Homo sapiens: one gene and its partners. The protein of the gene in region 3 interacts with the protein of the main gene of each other region in a pairwise test. Each region holds a gene or a part of one and is shown on either strand. Other genes may lie near its edges. The genes, in order: GPR152, STX8, TMPPE and CYB561.

What was found.
Region 1: the proteins of TMPPE (region 3) and GPR152 interact in binary tests that used the Homo sapiens proteins (3 or more experiments, as listed by UniProt).
Region 2: the proteins of TMPPE (region 3) and STX8 interact in binary tests that used the Homo sapiens proteins (3 or more experiments, as listed by UniProt).
Region 4: the proteins of TMPPE (region 3) and CYB561 interact in binary tests that used the Homo sapiens proteins (3 or more experiments, as listed by UniProt).

Annotation. Positions count from the first base shown.
Region 1 is NC_000011.10:67,450,769-67,457,073, forward strand, and holds GPR152 (probable G-protein coupled receptor 152), read right to left. Parts: upstream 1,962-6,305; 5' UTR 1,957-1,961; coding exon 544-1,956; 3' UTR 533-543; downstream 1-532. Other genes in the region: CABP4 (calcium-binding protein 4), read left to right, coding at 4,656-5,021, 5,420-5,450, 5,531-5,674. UniProt on the Homo sapiens protein: Orphan receptor.
Region 2 is NC_000017.11:9,502,793-9,509,834, forward strand, and holds part of STX8 (syntaxin-8), read right to left. Parts: intron 2,371-7,042; coding exon 2,246-2,370; intron 1-2,245. UniProt on the Homo sapiens protein: Vesicle trafficking protein that functions in the early secretory pathway, possibly by mediating retrograde transport from cis-Golgi membranes to the ER.
Region 3 is NC_000003.12:33,089,922-33,094,188, forward strand, and holds the end of TMPPE (transmembrane protein with metallophosphoesterase domain), read right to left. Parts: coding exon 2,913-4,267; 3' UTR 501-2,912; downstream 1-500.
Region 4 is NC_000017.11:63,431,777-63,436,321, reverse strand, and holds the end of CYB561 (transmembrane ascorbate-dependent reductase CYB561), read left to right. Parts: intron 1-169; coding exon 170-268; intron 269-530; coding exon 531-634; intron 635-1,078; coding exon 1,079-1,236; intron 1,237-1,727; coding exon 1,728-1,920; 3' UTR 1,921-4,018; downstream 4,019-4,545. UniProt on the Homo sapiens protein: Transmembrane reductase that uses ascorbate as an electron donor in the cytoplasm and transfers electrons across membranes to reduce monodehydro-L-ascorbate radical in the lumen of secretory vesicles.

The DNA of each region.
Region 1 (6,305 bases), on a different chromosome or scaffold from region 3:
TGCCAGGCCAGCTTGTGGTTCACCAGGGCCTTAGGCTCCTGCTTGGGGCTGGTGGCTCCTGGGAGGCCCCCTTCTCTTCAGGGACTTTTTTGTTTCACGTCCTTGTGTCCAGGCCCGGAGGAGGAGAGGGAGGGAAGGACCAAAGGGAGGTCAGGTCAAGCCCGGGGAAAGTGCCCCCTGTTGTCTTCCTCCAGCAGGACTGAGGCCCAGGGAAGAATAGTCAGCGGGGTCTGGGGTGTTGAGGGACAGTACCCCGCAAGATGCCATTAGCTGCGGTTTGGGGGCTGTCGGGCGACTGTGTGTGTGTTGGGAGCAACCACAGAAAAGGCTGATGGCCGGGAGCAGGGGTCGCTGACATGGAACTGCCTGAGACTTCTGGCTGGATTGTTTCCCCTCCCTCAAGTCCTCCTTCCAGGCCTGACGGACTCAGCAGGGTTTTTAAGGACAAAGCTGTCGGCGGCTCCCCACCTGTCTGACTGGCTGGTTCCTCTGTCTGCCCTGGGCTCTTTCACTGCTCTGGTGGGCCTGCGTGTTCCTGGACCCTCACGTGGGGCCTGCGCCCGGGGCCGCCTCTGGCGGGGTGCTGCTGGGGCTTTCTCCTTCAGAGGCAGGAGGTGTGGCTGGGTCCTCAAGGGCCCCTGGGGTAGGATGCGAGGATGGGGTTGGGGAAGCTTCATCACAGGGACTGGGCACAGAACTGGCAGCAGGTGCAGGGGTCTGGACGTTAGTGTCTGCCTGTGGCTGGGCCACAGAATCTGACTGTGGCTGGGCCATGAGGTTCAGCTGTGGCTGGGCTGTGGGATCCGACTGTGGCTGGGCCGTAGGGTTCAGCTGTGGCTGAGCTGTGGGATCCGATCGTGGCTGGAGTGTGGGGTTCACCTGAGGCTGGGCCACAGGATCCATCTGTGACTGGGCCTCTGCCATCGGCTCTGGCAGAGTTGGACCCTCAGAATCTAGCTGGGTCTGTGGCTCAGTGGGCGTGAAGCTGCCCGGCCGCTCCTCGCAGAGAGCTGCCGCGAAGGACGAGAGCACGGAGCGCAGCAGGGTCCGGAGGTCGGCACTGGCCATGAGGCAGAGGAAGGGGCTGAGGCAGCTGTTGAGTAGGATCAGGTAGTCGGAGTAGACCAGGGCCTCCCAGAGCAGGTAGCCAGAGTAGACGTCCCACAGGAAGGCCAGGTAGAGCAGCTGGGCCAGCTGGTAGGGCAGCCTCAGGACCACATAGGCTGACAGAATGGTCCTGGCCACACGGGCGAAGCCCCGGCAGGCTGCGGGCTGCTGTTGGCGGTGGCAGGTGCGACAGGCTGTGGCCTGGGTGAGCACGTGGCAGACGAGCAGCAGGAGGAAAGGCAGGAAGCCCCCCAGGACCTCCAGCATCCTCAGCGACAGCTCCTCGCTGTCCCAGAAGTCCAGGCAGATGACCAGGTCGTACCACCAGACGGCAGCCTCGGGGAAGACCAGCCAGGGCACGCTGAAGAGTGTGGCCAGCACCCAGACACCGGCGCAGACCCAGAGGGGCAGGCGGACTGGGCGGTGCCCAGGGTACCAGTGTGGGCACAGCGCCAGCAGGCAGCGGTCGAGGCTGAGGGCGGCCAGCAGGAAGAGGCCGGAGGAGTAGGACACGCCCCATAGGAAGTAGTAGAAGCGGCAGGCAGCTGTCCCCAGCGGCCAGTGTCCCCCATGCCGGATCTCTAGGATCTGGAAGGCCGCTGCTGCCAGGAACAAGAAGTCAGAGAGGGCCAGGCTGAGCAGGAGCAGCGCCAGACGCGTGCCAGCTCCATGCCGGGCCTGGGAGCCGGCCAGCCACGCCATCAACCCATTGGCTGGCAGCCCAAGGAGCAGCAGGGCCACCAGGAAGACCGTGTCCCAGCCACCTTGGGGGTAGGAGTCCTCATCATCAAGCTCTGTGCGGGGCCTGTGGCCAGTGGCACCCAGGTCAGCTTCCATGGTAGTGTCCATTTGGGGTCCCCAGAGTCCTGCTGGACACGGAGTGGGTGCCTGGTGAATCAATGATGGTGTGAATGACCGAGTATGGGAGAGACGGTGCTGTGCATCTCCAGGCAAGTCACCATCCCTCCCTGCGCCATTGTCATCACCTTTTGAGTAATTATCCTATGCCAAGGACTTGAAGTGGATGACCTCATGGAGTCCTCATACAATCTACTTTACAGGCGAGGACAGGAAGGTTCAGAGAATCAGTGAAGGTAGGAAGGGAGGTGCCAGGGCTCAACCCAGACTTTTCTTTTCTTTTCTTTTTTTTTTTTTGAGAGACAGGGCCTTGCTCTATTGCCCAGGATGAGTGCAGTGGCACAGTCCCTGCAGCTTCCACCTCCTGGGTTCCAGCGACCCTCCCATCTCAGCCTCCCTAGTAGCTGGGACTACAGGTGTGCACCCACTACTTTTTAAATTTTTAGTAGAAACAAGGTCTCACTGTGTTGCCCAGGCTGGTCTTGAACTCGTGAGCTCAAGTGATCCTCCTACCTTGGCCTCCTGAAATGTTGAGATTACAGGCATGAGACACTGTCCAGACAGACTTAATCTTCTGCCATGTAGAATCCCAATGGGTCCGGATAGACTAACCCGGAGGCTTTCAAACATTGTTAAAGGTATGGAATTTTGTCTGTAAGTAAAGTATTCTAAGGCCGGGCACGGTGGCTCACACCTGTAATCCCAGCACTTTGGGAGGATCACCTGAGGTTGGGAGTTCGAGACCAGCCTGACCAACATGGAGAAACCCCATCTCTACTAAAAATACAAAATTGGCTGGCCGTGGTGGCGCATGCCTGTAATCCCAGCTACTCAGGAGAATCGCTTGAACCCGGGAGGCAGAGGTTGTGGTGAGCCAAGATCGTGCCATCGCACTCCAGCCTGAGTAACAAGAGCAAAACTCTGTCTCAAAAAAAAAAAAAAAAAAAGTATTCTAGTGGAACTCCTATATGGACTAAAAGGGGGTGCTCAAATTAAGGGAGGGAAGAGTACCCCTACCCCCCAGGGTTCCAGGGAACACAGTTTGAAGACCGTTTGGTCCGCTCATCACAAGGCCCCTTTATGCCTGCTCCTCTGGGGTTCGAGTGTTTAGGATTCCAAGAAGGGAGGGCTCTGGTTCCCATGGGCCCAGGGGACCCGAAGGTAGGGAGTCTGGGGCAGTGGGAACCCCCTCCCCTCCAGCGAGTGTCACTCATGGGCTCAGGATGAGGTCTCTGAGCCTCAGGACCCCACAGCCTGGGGTCAGGAGGGCCATCCTAGGAGCCCCTGGTGCCTCTCCAGCATCTTCCACCCCACCGCGGCCCTCTCCCGCTTCCCACAGCTCAGGCAGGAGGTGACCCCTGTTTGTCTCCTGGAGCTGCTAAAGAGAGGGGGAGGGGCTCTGCAGTGGGATGGTGGTGGGATGGTGAGGGTGAGGGGAGTTGGAGGGCACCCAGACCTGGGATCCAAGAGGCCTGCAGCCCCACCTCGCCCTTCCCCGCTGGCAGCGGGGAGGGAGTTTCCCTTTGAGGGCGATGAGAGCCCAGGTGGTGGTATAGTCTGGGGAGGGAACGGATGCCCTGAAGGGCTGGCCCCTGCCCACGGCCCACGGCTCCAGCCACTTGGCCTTTAGTTTGGTGCCCTCCGTACCCTCAGGGTTCCTCCTCAGGCTGACCCCCTCTGCTGTCTCCATTCCCTATTGGATCAGAGCCCCAGGCACCCCGAGACTGGGGCCCTGACCAGTGAGGCCTGGCTTACCTGGGAGGCAGAGGCCGATGGGTGGAAGGAGCAGGAGCAGGGCGTGCCTGCCTGCCCAGCACTCCAGCTGTCCCCCCGGCCCTCACTGGGGCCTGCTTTGTGGCACCCGGCAGCGCTAAGGCGGGTGGGCAGGAAACCCAAGCTGAGAGGACATCAATTATTTATGGGGCTGCTTGCTGGGAAACCCTAACCCTGGCCCAGTAGGGCCAAGTGACCAGCCAGACCCCCTCCCCCAGCCCTGATGGGCCTGGACAGTCAGACCCTCCTCCCCAGGGCCTCTCTAGCCCAGAGCAGACTCTAAGACCCCAAGGTCCACCTCCTCCCACATCACCCCCCGTGCTCCTCAAAACGGCATTCGAGGCATCTGTGATCTGGCCTCTTCCTCCATTTCACACACCCTCTGCTCTGGCCAGGATGTCACCCATGGGGGGGCCCCAGTAGGCCACTCGCTCATCCTTTCCCACCTCCCAGCCGTTGTCCGCATGCCTCCTGCCACCTGAGATGCCTTCCCTGGTCCTCTCTGCCTAACGAAGGCCTCTGCCCATGTCACACATGAGCTGAGTCTTCTGCGCTCTAGCATTATTCCCCATGTTTTATAGATAGGGAAACTGAGGCTGGGAGGGGAATTTGCTGGATCCCCCAGCTAATAAGTAGCAGATCTGGCATCTGAGGCTCATGGCAGCCACCACGTCCTGGTGCCCCTTGCTTCTGACCAAGGACAGTTCTCTGGACCCATCTGGCTCTGCCCTGGCCAGCCCTGGGGCAGAGGACTGGGATTAGGGCCAGGGCTGCCTGCCTCACTTACCCTAATCCCCCTCAGAGCCCGATCCTAGGCTCTCAGCTCTAAGAGTGGGGGTGCATAAGCAGCTTTATGGGTCCTGAAAGCCAAGGGTGCCCAGGGGTGTGGTGTCTCTGAGCCCTGTTATCCCTCCCCCATGACCACAGAGCAGGCAAGGGGGCAGCAGGGCCCAAATCTGGCCATTGGCCGTCAGAAGCCCCCTGCGGGGGTTGTGACTCCCAAGAGTGATGCAGAGGAGCCCCCGTTGACCAGGAAGAGGAGCAAGAAGGAGAGGGGGCTCCGAGGGTCTCGAAAGCGCACTGGCAGCTCTGGGGAGCAGACAGGCCCCGAGGCCCCGGGGAGCAGCAATAACCCTCCCAGCACTGGAGAGGGGCCGGCGGGCGCACCCCCTGCATCCCCTGGGCCGGCCTCTTCTCGCCAGTCCCACCGACATCGTCCTGACTCCCTGCACGACGCTGCTCAGAGGACATACGGGCCCCTGCTCAATCGAGTCTTCGGGAAGGTTAGGTGGGACCTGGATTGGGCTGGGGGTCCTGGGGGTGGGGCTGGAGACACACCCCTTGGGCTCAGCTCACCCTGCCCCTGAGAGGCCCTCTGCCTCTTCTGCCCCAGACTGAGCCTGGGCTGTGGGGCAGGGTTGCTGCGGTTTGGGGAAGGGTAGGTCTCGGGCCAGCGTGGGCGGTGGGCAGAGCCAGAATTCACACCAGGGCTCTGTGGGAGCTCCAGGCTCTAGGAGCACAAAAGGGAGCTTGCTCCTCCTGGGTCCCACGAGGCTTCAGGGTCCTTTTCCTACTCTGATGGGGCTGGGCCCTGCCCAGGCCAACATGAGCAGGGGATGAAGGAGGAAGGATGACAGAGCCGTGGCTGGCCCTGGGGACATCCTGGACTCTCCCCCTGCAGGACCGCGAACTGGGCCCCGAGGAGCTAGACGGTGAGTGGCTCTTGCTGCTGGCAGGGGGTGGGAGCTGTCCCTGAGCCTGGCCACCTGGGCTTGACCTCCCTCCTCCACAGAGCTTCAGGCCGCCTTCGAGGAGTTTGACACTGACCGTGACGGCTACATCAGCCACCGGGAGCTGGGTGACTGCATGCGGACCCTGGGCTACATGCCCACCGAGATGGAGCTCCTGGAGGTCTCGCAGCACATCAAGATGCGCAGTCAGTCAGGGAGCCCGCCCGCCCGGGCAGCCTGCGTAGTTCAGGGGGTCACGAGGGGCTGGCAGGAGGTGGCCCTTGGGAGTCCATCGGGGTGCTAGTGGGAGTGAGGGAGGGTGGCGGTTTCCAGGCAGGGGCACCGGGTTCAAGCTCCTGCCTCTCTGTGTGGGAAGGCAGGCCAGCAAGGCGGCCCGGAGACCCAGGAGAGCCCCTTGGGGCTCAGGTTGAGGACCCTGGCTCGGGATGTCTGTTGCCATGGCCACTATACACATTTGCTCCTTTCACCCGAGCCCTTCCTGCCTCGCTGGCCCAGAAGCCCCTGACTCAGTGATAAAGTGCTGTCCGCTGATACTAGTCACCTGGCACCTTCTCTCTTTCTCTCTCTTTCTGTGACCCTGCCTCAGCCCTGTGCCCTGGTGGCAGCTGCCTGAATTGGGGTCGCCCTGATGGGAGAGGACCCCACCTATGCCTTGCGACTCAGTGTCTGATGGCAGGAACTGTGTGGTTCCCCTTCGCTGGTTTGTCCTCAGACAAATCTCATATTCACTTCATTCCAGGACTCCTGCATTTTTTCCTTAAAATTCCCAAAATGGGGATGTGATTTACAATTGAGCTGGACATTTGGTGTCATGCT
Region 2 (7,042 bases), on a different chromosome or scaffold from region 3:
CAAATCTATAATATAAGAGTGAAATGCAGGCCGGGCGCGGTGGCTCATGCCTGTAATCCCAGCACTTTGGGAGGCCGAGTCGAGTGGATCGCTTGAGGTCAGGAGTTCGAGACCAGCCTGGCCAGCATGGTGAAACCCCATCTCTACTAAAAATACAAAAAAAATTAGCTGGGCATGATGGCGGGCGCCCGTAATCCCAGCCACTCGGGAAGCTGAGGCAGGAGAATTGCTTGAACCCAGGAGGTGGAGGTTGTGGTGAGCTGAGATCGTACCACTGCACTCCAGTCTAGGCAGCAAAGCCAGACTCTGTCTCAAAAAAAAAAAAAAAAAAAAAAGAGTGAAATACTGATACACATAACCAGTTCAATGAATCTTAAAATAATTATGCTTAGACAAAGAAGCCAGAGCCCCTTCTTCCCCAAAAGGTACATACTGTATAGTTCTATTTATATAAAATTATAGAAAATGGAAACTAATTTATAGTGACAGAAAGAAGTTCAGCAGTTGTCTGGGCATGGCAGGGAGGAACAATAGGAAGAATTACAAAGAGGCATGAAGAAAACTTTTGGGAATAACAATTAGGTTCATTATTTTTATTGCAGTGATGGTTTCACAGGCATATACATATGTCAAAGCTTATCAAATCATATACTTCAAACATGGGCCATTTATGATCATATCAACTACATCTCAATAAAGCTGACTTTAGATTTATTTTCTCCTCCTCCTCCTCCCTCTTCCTTTTTATTCATTAATTTTTTTAAAGATGGGATTTTACTATGTTGCCTAGGCTGGTGTCAAACTCCTACACTCAAGCCATCCTGCTGCCTTGGCCTCCCAAAGTGTCAGGAGTACAGGCATGTGCCACCAGGCCTGGCAATAAAGCTGATTTTAAAAAGCAGAATTAGAAAGAATAATGTATCTGTACATACTGACATTTTAAAAAGTCCATAACACATACTAAGTGGTTTTTTCTTTTTTTTCCTTTGAGATGGAGTCTCACTCTGTTGCACAGGCTGGAGTGCAGTGACATGCTATATCGGCTCACTGCAACCTCTGCCTCCTGGGTTCAAGCGATTCTCCTGCCTCAGCCTCCTGAGTAGCTAGGACTACAGGTGCGTGCCACCACACCCAGCTAATTTTTTATTTTTAGTAGAGACGGCGTTTCACCATGTTGGCCAGGCTGGTCTCGAACTCCTGATCTCAGGTGATCCTCCTGCCTCAGCCTCCCAAAGTGCTGGGATTACAGGCGTGAGCCACCACACCCAGCCGACACATACTAAGTTTTAAAAAGGTGTGGAATTATATATATATATGGAGAGAGCTAAATATCTCATGATTCCATTTATGTAAAATAAGTATATTTATATTGAATATATGTATGTGAATGTATACAAAAGGTCTAAGGAAATACATATTAATCTGTTTCCAGTTTGAGATTGGAGAAACAATATGGAGGGCTTTCATCTTATACATTCCTATGTTGTTTACACTTTGTATAACAATCATGCATACTTCTGAAATTTTAAAAATATAAGAAAGTTTAAAAAAAAAAAGTTAAAAAGCCACAGGGCAAAAGATAAAAAAGAAAAGCCAAACTGACATATTTTATAATTTAAAAAATAAAATGGAGTCTTGTGTTTGGAGACTAATTCCCAGTCGTGAAGCTAAAGTAAAGAGCATAAGCATCAAATTTGCTTGGACTTAGATTCAGATCTGCTCTCTCTGCTCTTGCCCAATGGAAAATCACCACTTCCATGAGCCACCGAGATGAGTGACAGCAACTGTCTATTCCTCAGGTATCCTGAGGCACACACCAAAAGCTTTAAAAGACCAGCAGTTTTCACTCCAATTTTCAATGGGGATGAGGAACAAACAAGGCTCCAGTAGAAAATCTGGTGGCCGGGCACGGTGGCTCACACCTGTAATCCCAGCACTTTGGGAGGCCAAGGTGGGAAGATCATGAGGTCAGGAGATCAAGACCATCCTGGCTAACAGGGTGAAACCCTGTCTGTACTAAAAATACAAAAAATTAGCCGGGCATGGTGGCACGCACCTGTAGTCCCAGCTTCTCGGGAGGCTGAGGCAGGAGAATCGTTTGAACCCGGGAGGTGGAGGTTGCAGTGAGCCAAGATCACGCCACTGCACTCCAGCCTAGGCGACATAGCAAGACTCCGTCTCAAAAAAAAAAAAAAAAAAATTCTGGCAAGGTTTCTGAGCCCACACTCCTCAGGATATTTAGTACCTTGGATAATTTTCTGCTGCTGTTGCCGGATTTCATCAAAACCCAAGCCTCTGGTCTCCTCTGGCTCCTCAAAGAGCCAAGGGTTGGGTGCTCCTCGCTTAGCCTCTTCACTCATCAGGCTGGACCTAAAGAACAATATTAAATGCATGATATATCTCAAAACATGCAGCTCAAATGCAAATTACTCCCACAAGTGCAGAGGTGGCCAGCCTTGAATGCTTTGAAAATTCAATTCAAACACAATTTATTGCATCATTAGTTTATGCCAGGAACTGTATTCAGTGCTGGACGAGATACAAGGATGAATAAGGCACAAGCTTGGTCCTCAGAATTACAGCCTGTTATAGAGATGATGGGAGAACATAATATTTGTACTAATCCTCCAAGAGATGTTTGAGTTAATAATCCTAAAAGAAGTTGGTAATAAATGAGGTTCTTAAATTTCAAAAACAGAAGGCCGAACAGCGGCCTTTTTATTAGGACAAAGTTTGTCTCAGAGGCTACGTGACCCCAAAGGTACAAATATTATTTCTCAAGCAGACACAATGTTGCGACTACAGATTACAATGTTGTTGTTGTTTTAAAAAAAGACCATATAATTTCCCATTAAAGGGTATTTGGAGCCGGGCGCAGTGGCTCATGTGTGTAATCCCAGCCCTCTGGGAGGCTGAGGCGGGCAGATCACCTGAAGTCAGGAGTTCCAGACCAGCCCGTCCAACATGATGAAACCCTGTCTCTAATAAACACAAAAAAAATTAGCCGGGCTTGGCGGCAGACATCTGTAATCCCAGCTACTTGGGAGGCTGAGGCAGGAAAATCGCTTGAACCTGAGAGGCGGAGGTTGCAGTGAGCCAAGATGGCGCCACTGCACTGCAGCCTGGGTAGCGGAGCAAGACTCTGTCTCAAAAAAAAAAAAAAAAAAAGGAGTATTTGGTTGCTCAGAGACAGAAACACATGCAGGGTTTCAATACCAATTTTGTGACTATAATGTAGCATTCATAACAGAATAAACACATTCTGATTTGTCAATCTTAACCTTACTCCCTCTAATAATCCATGTGCCCTTTCTGCACGAGACCAGTTGGTCTCGCTGTCTAAGGAACAGGAAACACATGATTTCCACCTCAGTCCCCATGTTTTCAGGATTTTTCTCCTCTCAAGTAGCTCCTCTCCTCTCCCCACCTGTCTGCATTCTGTCCAAGCTGAGAAGATCATCTTGTCCAGGACACGACCTTCTGACCAATTCAACAAAGAGATGAACATTAGACTCATCTTTAGAGCTCTCAACAGATTCATGAAAAATCATAGAATAAATGATGGGTGGGACATCAGCAAGATGACTGATTAGAGTCAGCTGGTGCTCACCCGCTCCCCCCCCCCCCCACCCACCTTTCTTAGGAAAGGACTAAGGCAATGAATAAACAGCTAAGATTTGACTTCAGTGTGGGAAAGTGCTGAACTGCAGTGGGGAAGTGGAGAGGCCCCTGTGGTGACTGAAAGTCTAGGAGGGCAGCATGAAGGCCCCCAGCCTCTGTGGCCCCATCTCTTCCACCAGGACTGAGGAGGCCTGGACATATGAAGGCCTTCTCCCTGTGAGGAAAAGGTAAGCGGGAGATTCCCACCTGCCCCCACTGCCACTGCAAACACCTACAGTCCTTATTACAGGAGGATCCCCCAGTCCTTGCAAGTTCTGAGCCCAGTTTGGAGAGCTGCTGGGAATTCGTACAGTTGCACTGCCCCAGATTAGGAGCATTCCCCACTCCCCACCCACTCCATGAGCCAAGTTACTACAGCATGGCGCCATCTTTAGACCACAGCTCCCTCTGGAGTGTGCCTTCCTCTTGGGGCCAGTAGCCACTGCACCTTTCCAGCACTGGGACTCCATTTTCATGCCACCAAAGCTACACAGGTGGCTGAACTCCACAACCCAGGGCTCGGGAATGGCTGTGACTCTGGTCCTGCAATGAAGGGAAACCACCCTCTGCACTTTCAGCCACAGAAACAGTCCCACCCAGGGCAAACCCACTCTTGAGCCAACCAAACTGCTGCATACCCTCCTGCAAGCAGAAGGCCCTGAGCAACTGACAGGCTAGCAGAGTGACTACGCTCCTGCATCCCGGATCTATGAAACAGTCGGGCAGTGCAGCCCCCTACAGACATGCCCCCGGCCTGCCCAAAGGCCCCACACCTCAATCAGGGCCTGAGAAACAACCCTGCAGGCTGCCCCTGGCAGACATACCCCCAGGCCAGCCAAGTAGCCATGTGTCCATATCTCAGGCCTGAAAAACAGCCCATGGGTCACCCCTAGCGGCAACTCCCCTAGGCCAGCCGAGCAGCCTTGTGTTCATATCCCGGGTCTGAGAAGCAACTCCTCAGGCCACTCCTGGCAGACATGCCCCCGGGGCCATCAAGCAGACTTATGCCCACCTCTCATGCCTGAGAAATAGCCCTGTAGGCTGTCCCCAGCAGGCATTCCCCACAGGAGAGCTGAGCAGCAGTGTGCCCATGTCCCAAACCTGAGAAACAGCCCAACAGGCCACCTCTGGCAGGCATACTCCCAGACTGGCCAAGCAACCAAGCAACTGTGCCCTCAGCCAGAGTAAGGGCACCAACCCCAACCCCAGCAAGTGAGACCCCAAGTTGGACAACCCACCATGTGAACGCATGCATCGCTGACCTGACAAATAGCCCGGTGAACACATCCCTGGCAAAGTCATGCCACCACCACCACAAAGCCTCTCAGCTGAGGCCACTGAGACACTCACAAATGTCACTGGCATGGATTACAGTTAAAGAAACTACACAAAAACTACACTACTATGCCCACCTGGAACCAAAGCCAATGCATCCCACTGAACCAACACCCCAAGATCCATTCATACAAATATTTCTTTCCCTGCAAAACCTACCACATAAAATTGGAAGAGGCAATTATTCCACCAGATGCATAGACATCAACATAGGGATACATCGAACATGAAAAAGCAAGGAAACATGACACCTCCAAAGGAATACAATAATTCCTGTGTAATAGACCCCAATGATAGAGAAATATACAAAATGACAGAAAAAGAATTCAAAATAGTAATCTTACAGTGAGATACAAGATAATAGAGCTAGACAATTTGATGAAATCAGGAAAACAATTCATGACTTGAACAAGAAATTCAACAAGAAGATAAATACCATAAAAAAGAACAAAACAGGTATCCTGGAGTGGAAGAATTCAATGAATAAGTAAATAAGTACAAGCTAGAGCTTTACCAAAAGACTAGACCAAGCAGAATTTTATTTATTTATTTTTTTGGAGACAGGTTCTTACTCTGTCACCCAGGCTGGAGTGCAGTGGCATTATCTCAGCTCACTGCAACCTCCACCTCCTGGGCTCAAGTGATTCTCCCTCCTCAGTCCTCCTGAGTAGCTGGGACTACAGGGGCATGCCATCACATCCAGCTAATTTTTGTATTTTTTGGTAGAGATGGGGTTTCACCATGTTAGCCAGGTTGGTATCGAACTCCTAATCTCAAGTGATCTGCCCGCCTTGGCCTCCCAAAGTGCCAGGATTACAGGTGTGAGCCACCATGCGTGGCTGAATTTTTGAACTTGAAGACAGATCTTGTGAAATAACACAGAAAGATGGGGGGAAGAAAAAGTAAAATGGAATGAAGAAAGCCTACAGAATTCATGGGACACTATTAAGTGAACAAATATTCACACTGTAGGTGTTCCAGAAAGAGAAAAGAAGGGCAAATGTACAGAAAACATTGAATGAAATAGTAGCTGAAAACTTCCCAAGTCTTGGGAGCTTCCAGATCCAGGAAGCTAAAAGAATCCCAAATAGATTCCATTCAAACAGGACCCCTCTTAGGCACATTAGAGTCAAATTATCAAAAGTCAAAGACAAAGAATTCTAAAAACAGCAAGAGAAGGACTGGATGTGGTGGCTCATGCCTGTTATCCCAGTACTTTGGGAGGCCGAGGCTGGCAGATCACGATGTCAGGAGTTCAAGACCAGCCTGGCCAACATGGTGAAACTCTGTCTCTACTAAAAATACAAAAAAATTAGCTGGGCATGGTGGCAGGTGCCTGTAATCCCAGCTACTCAGGAGGCAGAGGCAGGAGAATCACTTGAACCTGGGAGGCGGAGGTTGCAGTGAGCTGAGACCACGCTACTGCACTCCAGCCTGGGCAACAGAGCAAGACTCCATCTCAAAAACAAACAAACAACAATGACAAAAAGAAACCAGCAAGAGAAAAGCATCAAATCACCTATGAGGGAGTTCCCATTAGACTAATAGCAGATTTCTCAGCAGAAATCTTACCAACCAAGAGAGAATAGGATTTTATGTTCAAAGTACTAAAAGAAAAAAAAAATCTGCCAACCAAGAATATTACATGCAGCAAAGATATCCTCCAGAAATGAAAGAGAAATAAAATCTTTCACAGACAAGCAAAAACGAAGGTAATCCATCACCACTAGACCAGTCTTACAAGAAGTGCTCAAGGGAGTATTACATCTGGAAGTGAAAAGATCATAACAGCCATTATAAAAACATGTGACACTATAAAACTCACTGGTAGAGCCAATATACAAAGGAAAAAGAGAAAGAAATCAAGCCTTATCACTTCAGAACACTACCCAACCACAAAAATAAACAGTAAGAGGAAGTAAGGAACAAAGGATATAGAAAACAGCCAGAAAACAATAAAATGACAAGATAAGTCCTCACCTATTAATAATAACCTTGAATGTAAGTGAATTAAATATCTCATTAAAAGACATAGACTGGATAACTA
Region 3 (4,267 bases):
TAAGATAGTAATTTTTTTGCCACAATAAAAAATATAGTTGAGATAATCAGGAAAAACTAAACACTAACTCTTCACACAGTTAACTGCATTTGAATTCTGTACTCATTTGTGACAGATACAGCTACTTAATACTCAGAGAGTGGAAAGAACACTTCTTTAAAGAGGTCAAAAATCTGGCTACTAGCCCCAAATCTCCTAACTAGCTATTAGATGATATTCAAGAATCACTGTTAATTTCATTGGATATGATAATGACACTATAGCTATGCTTTTTGAAAAAGGATTCATACTGAAGTAATTTTGGGGTAACATTATGTTTTCTATGATTTACCTTAATATACTCCAGCCAAAAAATAAAGAGTACAGGTGGGGCAGGGGTAGCTGAGAAAGGATGGCAGAGTGGTCTCGTCATGCTTGTTAAAGCTGGGAGAGAGGTACATGTACGAAAAGTTTAAAACAAACCAAACAAAACACGAGGGGAAGAAAAGCATGGATGGGTATTTGGAAGGAATGGCAGCAGGATCAATTTATTGAGATTTTGTGACAGCATCATATACTACAGACACTATTGCTGATTTTCAAAAAGCATTGCATTTCAATTTGCATCTAACAGATTAAAAATAAAGAAACAAATGAAATTGAAAGAATGATCAAGCTTCAAGTAACGTTTCTCACCACCTCCCCCGGCCACAAACAAACAAAAAGGTCCATGGTTTAAGAATGTTGAACAAAGGGACTAAAGGTGTCATGGAGACCTGCCCACCAGGGCCAGAATCTGGACAGTGATGGAGAAATTTCTGCTGCAAAAATGTCCGCCGCGTCAGGGAATACAAACCACATACGAGAGGGTGTTGATGTTGTTTCTCAGATACATAGGATGGACCTGTTTTCTTTCTGCTAATAGAAAGCAATCAGTCAAGCAAGGACTTCAGAGTGGATGAAGGGTACATAAGACCACACAATGATGGCATTCAAGAGAAAGAAAAGAGGTAAGGATGCAAAATTAAAAAAAAAATAGGACTTAATGAAAGCTAATTTCATCAAGCCCAGGTCACTGATGAGAAAGATGTAAAATCAAGAAACCAGTGAAATAACACGTAACAGGTGAGTCAAACATTACCAGCCGCATCAAACAGTGGAAGTGAAATGGCACCATCTAGCCCACCTGGTGAAATCCAAAGCGAGAACTTAAAGGGAGTAAGGATGATTCACAAAATGCGGTCGGGACACAAGAAAAGTGAGTTTGGAAGGACAGTGAAGAGAGAAAAAAGAATAAGGAAACCACCAAAATTTCAACTCAAAGATACATTTTAAACTGCATGGTATGGCCCACTGTCAATACCGTGGCTGCCTGGGAACAAAAAGGGTGGTCTCCAGATCCCCCAGAACCCCACTATACACCAGGAGGACAAGGAGGAAAGGAAGAAACCCCCTTTGCCTGCCAGAATGCACATGAGGGAAGGAAGGCAAACCCCTAGCAGTTGCTGCTTTGACACATCACCTGCCCCAGCAGCAGGCAGCTCGCTACCCACTCACATTCCCCAGGACTGGCTGCTCCATGAATCCTCTGGGCACCTGTGCCCAACAGAGTTCCTTAGCAAGCTCCACTGGAACGTTGAAAAATTAACATTGAGTGTTTACTGTGCACGCTGTGCCATGTGGAACTCATGCACAAGGCTTGATGGATCCCTCCTGACAAAACAATCTTGAGGTAGATACGATAATTATCCCCATTTTAGGGTTGATGGAAACCAAGGCTGAGTGAGGGAAAGTCACCCACCCAACGCTGCCCTATGAGTGAGCAGCAGGGTTAGCCTCTCCAGTCAGAGCGAGTGTCTTCACTCCCCATTGGAGGAAGACTTTCCATCACAAGCCTAAATCACCCAGCAGGAAACCAGCCCAGCCCTGTCTTCTCAGTGAGGCCTTTTCTAACACGGGTGCTTATCTCCATCTCAGGATCAAAGGATCTATTGCTTCTGGCAAAAGGGCAAAAGCACCGCTTTTACTGGGAGGTACAAGACCTGGTTTCTAGCCCCAAATCTCCTACATATCTTGTCATACTGCCTGTGCCCTATCTCTCTTTGCCTTGGTTTCCTTATCTCCAAATAGGGAAAAGCAGCCTGTCCCCAGTGAGCTCCCCGAAGGGTTGTATAAAATGAGACAAGGGAGGCAAAGCCCTCTGAATTCCTAAGCAGCCATGTTCTCACCATCACCGACCATGGCGCCCACCGTTCTTCTCCCCTGACCTTGCCCCCAAAGGCCCAGGAGCACAGACAGTTAAATAGCATCCCTCAAGGCCTGGAACAGGAGGAGCTTTGCATTCCAGTAGATTTTGCTGATGCCCTCAATAGAGGTGATCCTGATAGAATCAGAGGAAAAGAAAATATTCTTCTCTAGCAGCCAGAGGGCCCTTCCATCTTGCCTGTTCTCCCAAATTACCTGGCAACACTACCCCTTCCCCAGAAAGGCTCTGGATCAATGATTCTGGAAACCACTTAAGTCCTAAAGACAATTTTAAAACACCAGGAGAAAAATGCTCCTGCTCCTCCCCGCCCCACCTTCTAGAGGTATGCCTTTCTAGCAACCCCGAGGGGAGGTTCATCCCTGGGAGCTCTGCAGGAGAAGGTCCCCATTCCACATCATCTGGAAAATAGAGGGGAGTGCTAATATATGTGACCTTAGTGATCTCACAAGTGCATCAAAAAAAGCAACTGGCCAAGGAAATAGTTAAACCAGCCTGAACATGCCAGGCAGGCCCACCATAAGTCACTGTTTGAGTCAGGCTTGTGACCAAGGGTGTGTAGGCAAGGATGAGTGGGCAAGGCTGGAGGGGAAAAGCAGGCAAACCACTCTGAAGCAGGATGGAGGGTCGAGGACAAGGGCAGGGCAGAGGTGCACAGGGCAGGGCCAGTTCAGGGAGACCGCTGCAGGATGAGCTCTGTGATCTCGGCCCTGCTACCCAGCCTCATGGGTATCCCGTAGTAGGCTGTGCCTGGGCTGACATACACGAATGTAGCCTGGGCCACCTGGTAGAGACCAGCAAAGAAGGGATTCAGGAGATAGGCTGCTACGTTCAAGGGGAAGATCTGCCCAGCATGTGTGTGCCCAGAAAGGATCAGGTTAATATCTGGCCGAGCCTGGAGAGCTCTCTTGGCAGCCAGGGGCTGGTGAGCTAGCAAGATGATTGTGTGGTCTGGGCTGCAGCCCTCCAGGGCCTTGTCAAGATCCATGCCATGGCCAGAGTAGTGCAGGATGTCTGCTTCAATATCGTCCACCCCAGCCAAGCAGATCCAGTCCTCATCCTCACTCCCACTGCCACTGCCACCACCACCACGTTGGGCCCGTGTGGCGGAAATCTTCACGTTCTCATTATGAAGAGGCTGGACATGCAGGGATTCCAGAAGTGCAAACCAGTTGCTGACATCTGACGTGTAGTACTCATGATTGCCTGTGACGAAGTAGGCACCGAGATGTGAATGAAGCTGGCCCAGAGGAGCGACAGCCGTCCGCAGGACCGAGGCTTCTGAGTCGGAGAGGTCACCCACAATCACCGTGATGTCTGGTTCCAGCACATTCACCATCCTCACAAACATTTCCATCTTGGTCCTGCCCACTGTGGGGCCCAAGTGAATGTCTGAGAGGAGCACGATCTTGAGGTTGTTCATTGAGGCAGGCAGCTGATGGATGGGCACCTCCACAGTTTTCACAGCCGGGGGCTGCGCGGCATTCAGAATCCCGGCCACGCTGAGCACAGCAGTCACTCCCACTGCCAGGGCAGGCCTGAGCACGAGCTTCCTTGTCTTCTCAAGGCTGCCCACGACCCTACCACTGCGCCAGGCCAAGAGCTGGTAGGCCTGCTCCATGCCGCTGAGGATGAAGAGGAAGAAGAGCATGATGATGTAAGCACCCAGGCAGGAGTAGGCCGCCAAGGAAAAGAGATAGGGCTCTTCGGCCACTAAAAAGAACATGGTAAAGAAACTGGAATGGGCCAGGGCCAGAAATGCCAGAACCACCACCTTCCAAAGCTGAAAACAGGTTGACTCTGCAGCTGGGGAGTGGCAGAGGTTGCTCACTGTGCTGCGCCAAATGTAGAGGGAGCCAATGAGCAAGAGCGAGTTGACAAACAGGGCAAGCTGCAAGCGAAGCAGCCAACGCCAGGCCCTGAGCTCAAGGCTCTCTGCCAGATACGAGCGGGAGGCGATCATGGACACGAAGACAGTGACAGCAGCCAGGGTGGCCTTCGCGCCTAGGGACAGCTGCCTGAAGA
Region 4 (4,545 bases), on a different chromosome or scaffold from region 3:
GCCCAGGGTCCCCAGGGAACCTGGCTTTCTCCTCCGGTTCCTGCAGCTAGGCTCCTGTTACAAGCCGTCAGCTCACATCACCTCTCCACCAAGGTGCCTCCTTGCTGCTGGGGCAGGAGGCCTCACGCACAGGCGGATGCACTCACGTTCCCTCTCTCACCTCCCACAGCCCTGCTGGTTTACCGTGTCTTCAGGAACGAAGCTAAACGCACCACCAAGGTCCTGCACGGGCTGCTGCACATCTTTGCGCTCGTCATCGCCCTGGTTGGTGAGTTCCCGGGCGCGGCCTTCCCCGCCACCTGCCTGCCTCTTCAGGTATGGCAAACAGCCGCTTCACCTGCTCTGTTCCCTCCCCAGAGCTGTGATGGGCCCGCCCCCACCCCAAACATCCCCTGCAGGGCCACTAGGTGCTGGCAGCCCTCGAGCTGGGACTAAAGCCCAGAAGTCCCGCTAGCTGGTTCCCCTGGGTCATCTTACACCTTCCTTTTCCACATCCAACCCTGTCCTCATATGACCTGTCTCTGGCCCAGGCTTGGTGGCGGTGTTCGACTACCACAGGAAGAAGGGCTACGCTGACCTGTACAGCCTACACAGCTGGTGCGGGATCCTTGTCTTTGTCCTGTACTTTGTGCAGGTGAGTCCTTCCAACACCCCGGGCCTGGGGCCACCTACCAGGGAGGTGGGAGGAGGAGGGGAGCTGGGCTGAAATGTACCTCATGGAAGGGCCTGATTTCTGGGGTGTGTGCAGGTGAGAGAGCTGCCTTCCCAGGCCTGTGCGGGTGCAAAGCTAGGATTGGCGGCCAAGGGTGCCCAGCTCCCAGGCGCCCCATGGCTGACTCAGCACTTTTGGCCACAAGCCCAGCTTTCTGAGTGTGCCAAGGCCTCAAGCGTTGGGGGACCGGTCCCTTGTCCCTAAGCGCTTAGTGCTCCTCCCACCACTGTGCTGAGGAGGAAGGAAACCAGGCAGGGCTGAGGGGCTCACAGTCGCCACGTGGGCACGTGGGTGTGGGCCTGGCCGACCTCGGCTGCTGGGGTGTCCGGCCGCCCTGTCCCGGAACCGTCTCCTTTCAAATCCTAGTGGCTGGTGGGCTTCAGCTTCTTCCTGTTCCCCGGAGCTTCATTCTCCCTGCGGAGCCGCTACCGCCCACAGCACATCTTCTTTGGTGCTACCATCTTCCTCCTTTCCGTGGGCACCGCCCTGCTGGGCCTGAAGGAGGCACTGCTGTTCAACCTCGGGTGAGTGTCCTGGGTGGGAGAGGGCAGGGCCTGGGCCACCCTTGCACAGACCTCACCCTGCCTTCAGCTTCCCCAGCTGTGGCTTCCTGAGCCGCCTCTCGTGGCGTCACAACTGGTGGCTGTAGTTATGCTTGCTAAGATTTGGGTGCTTGGGGCTTGGCTTTGGTTAGCTTTCTTGATTTTACCCTTTCAAAGAAACTTCTGGGCTATGGGCACCCTATTTATTCCCACCACGCAGCAGGATCTGCAGGACAACTGCTTAGAGCTAGAATATTGATCTAGGTTTTTACATTGCCCATCTCTTTTTGTCTGTGAGCCATAGCTGGAGATTGCTGGTTGGGGGCGGGGGGATGGTTGTTCTCTTCAGGCAGGGCAGGGAGGCAGGGGCTGGTGCTGGAATCCCCATGGCATCTTTAAGGCCCAGGATACAAAGGGCATTTGGCCTAATTGTGACCCCTTGGGCAGCTTCTCCCTTCCTCTCACCCCTGCAGGGGCAAGTATAGCGCATTTGAGCCCGAGGGTGTCCTGGCCAACGTGCTGGGCCTGCTGCTGGCCTGCTTCGGTGGGGCGGTGCTCTACATCTTGACCCGGGCCGACTGGAAGCGGCCTTCCCAGGCGGAAGAGCAGGCCCTCTCCATGGACTTCAAGACGCTGACGGAGGGAGATAGCCCCGGCTCCCAGTGATGCGCCCGGCCGGCCCTGGGGGTTCGCGGGGTGTCTTCTTGCCTGCCCCTGCTGAGGCGTCTTCAGGACTGCAGGCTCCGGAGAGTGGCTCTGGCAGCAGGCGGGCGCGTGGGTGCAGCTGCATCTGTTTGAGTGCTGCTTTCTGGGGTCAGGTCTCCGCCTCCTCTGCTTCTCCTTTCTCCGCTGCTATAGACCAGTTCATTGTGTGTGGCTCCCGTGTCTCTGTTGCCCCCTTCAGTGCAGAAGGCTTTGGGTAGGACTTCGGGTGTTCGGTCCTGGTCGCAGAGCACAGATCTTTAAAGAAGCGAGAGAGGAGGCCCCACCCTCCTGGCAGCAGATGCCTGGGGCAAGGCCAGGGGAAACTGGGGGGGCCTCAGGGACAGGCCTGGAAAGGCCACGATGGCTGCTGAATTCAAACAAGGAGTCCCTCCAGCCTGAATAACACGTGGCACAAATGGGCCCGGCCTTTGGCAGAGGAGCAAGTGATATGATGTGTAAAGTATGTTGGTGGTGAAAGCAAGGTTCCCCAGGAGAGGGGAGGGACTGGCCCCTGGGAAGCTCTGAGATGAGGCTGTGGCCCAGCTGTAGTCCTGACCTTCCTCTTCTTTAACCCTTTAGCCCTAGGATGGCTTTGGTGGGAGAGGGGATAGAAGCCCATGACTTCAGACAGACTTTCTCTTGGCAGATGCAGGCGGGCCTCCTCCCAGGCTGCTCCAGACATGGGGGTTGGGGATGGGGGGCACCTTGCAGCCCCTTCCTGCTGGGGCTCCCTCCTTGTAGCACCCCCCTTGCGGCTCAGCTCTGGTTTCCTCTCCCAGGCTCACCCAGGCTCTGCTCAGGCTGGGAGGCAGAGGGCACAAACCTTATAATTTTTTAAATGAAAAACCGCTGCTGCTGGCTGTGGCTAGAGCCCCCTGGGGCTGCTGGAGCTGCTGCCTCTGTTCTGGAGGACGAGCCTTCTCCTTATCTGCTGCCCATCTTTCCAGGAAGTCAGGATGGAGTCAGAACAACTACAGTCATCCCCCGTGGTGTCTGCACATCACTCCAGCCCCATAAAGAGTGTCATGTTAGCTGAGTCACCATTTGGCTTCGGCCTGGAAATAGTGTGATTAGAACACTGATCGTGTGCGAGGCCAGGAGATCAAGACCATCCTGACTAACAAACACAGTGAAACCCCGTCTCTACTAAAAATACAAAAAAATTAGCCAGGCGTGGTGGTGGGCGCCTGTAGTCCCAGCTACTTGGGAGGCTGAGGCAGGAGAATGGTGTGAACCCGGGAGATGGCGCTTGCAGTGAGCTGAGATTGCACTCCAGCCTGGGCGACAGGCTCAAAAAAGAAAAAAAAAAGAACACCGATCATGTGCTTCTTGGATCTGGTGACTGTTCTCTCCCTGTTTTCCTTTCTTTTTGGGTGTTTGAGGAGCATGGCTTAGCTTGAGACACACACAGACACTGTGTACTTCAGTGAAGGGCTTAATATACAGTTTCCAAACCTGACGACTCTTCTTCTTGTAATGGCTGCCCTTTTCCTACCTGAGGCCGTCTTAGAGAAAGGGGCCAGTCTCCTCTAATGCTCAGATTTCCCATAGTTGGCTTTTGCTGTGTCTCCTGCCTCAGGCAGTGTCATTTCTGGGAGCAGGTGGTTGTAGTCCAGGCCCCTCCCCAGCAGGGTCTGCCCAGGCTCCTTCGAGCCCCTTTCCCCGCCTCCTCTCAGCCTGTCCGGATGACAGTGTTCGCCTCCTGTTTAGACTGTACACTCTTCAGGGGTAGGGGTGCCGTCAGTTCTTCAATCAGCTGGCACACACTTGTATAGTGAAATGTTTACATGTGGGAAAACTCCGCCTTAGACAAACTACCAAAGTACAATCGTGTCTCTCTCTAGCCGGAATGCTACAGAGAGAAATGGAACCTTAGATTTGCAACAAAAGTCTGTAAACTGGTCTGTTTGCCAAAGTGAACACTGGATGACTAAGGAGCTGAAGAAGGCCCCCAGAAGCGGATTTGTGGTGGGTTATTTTATTTTGCCTGTGGCCAATCTTCTGTGAAATACAATGTGCTGTTGGTGCAACAGATGATTCAATAAATGTCTACAGCAGACCTCTCGCCTGTTATCTTCCTTTACTGTGGTAATAAAAGGAGCCGGAGCTTTTAGCAGCCAGACACATGACGTTAGCTCTAGGCCTGAGAGAAATTGAATATCCGCAGGCTGGGCACAGAAGGTAAAGCGATTAGTGATATTGATCATGGCCTAGGGGCTGAAAAGGCCCAGCGGTTGTCCAGTCTCGACCCAGCAGAGGCAGTGTTGTTTCCACATGGTTAGATAAGCCCTTTCCTCTCAGCCTGAGAGGGTGGCCTGGATGGTGGAGCTGCAAGAGCCTGATAAGAGCCTTGGCAAGGAAGGTCCCCCAGTGTTTAATGGACCCCTTTCCCTTTGAAATCAGTCTTTTTGATCCTTAAGAAGAGGAGCAAAGCTTTTGGAACGAGCTGAGATTCCACTTTAGATCCACGTACGTGGCTCAGGCAGAAGGTGAGTTTTTGGCAAATTTGGGTGGGATCGTACTGTGCGCTTTGTGCCTTGTCACTTAAAGCAGTGGCCGCCAACCTTTTTGGCAGCAGGAACAGGT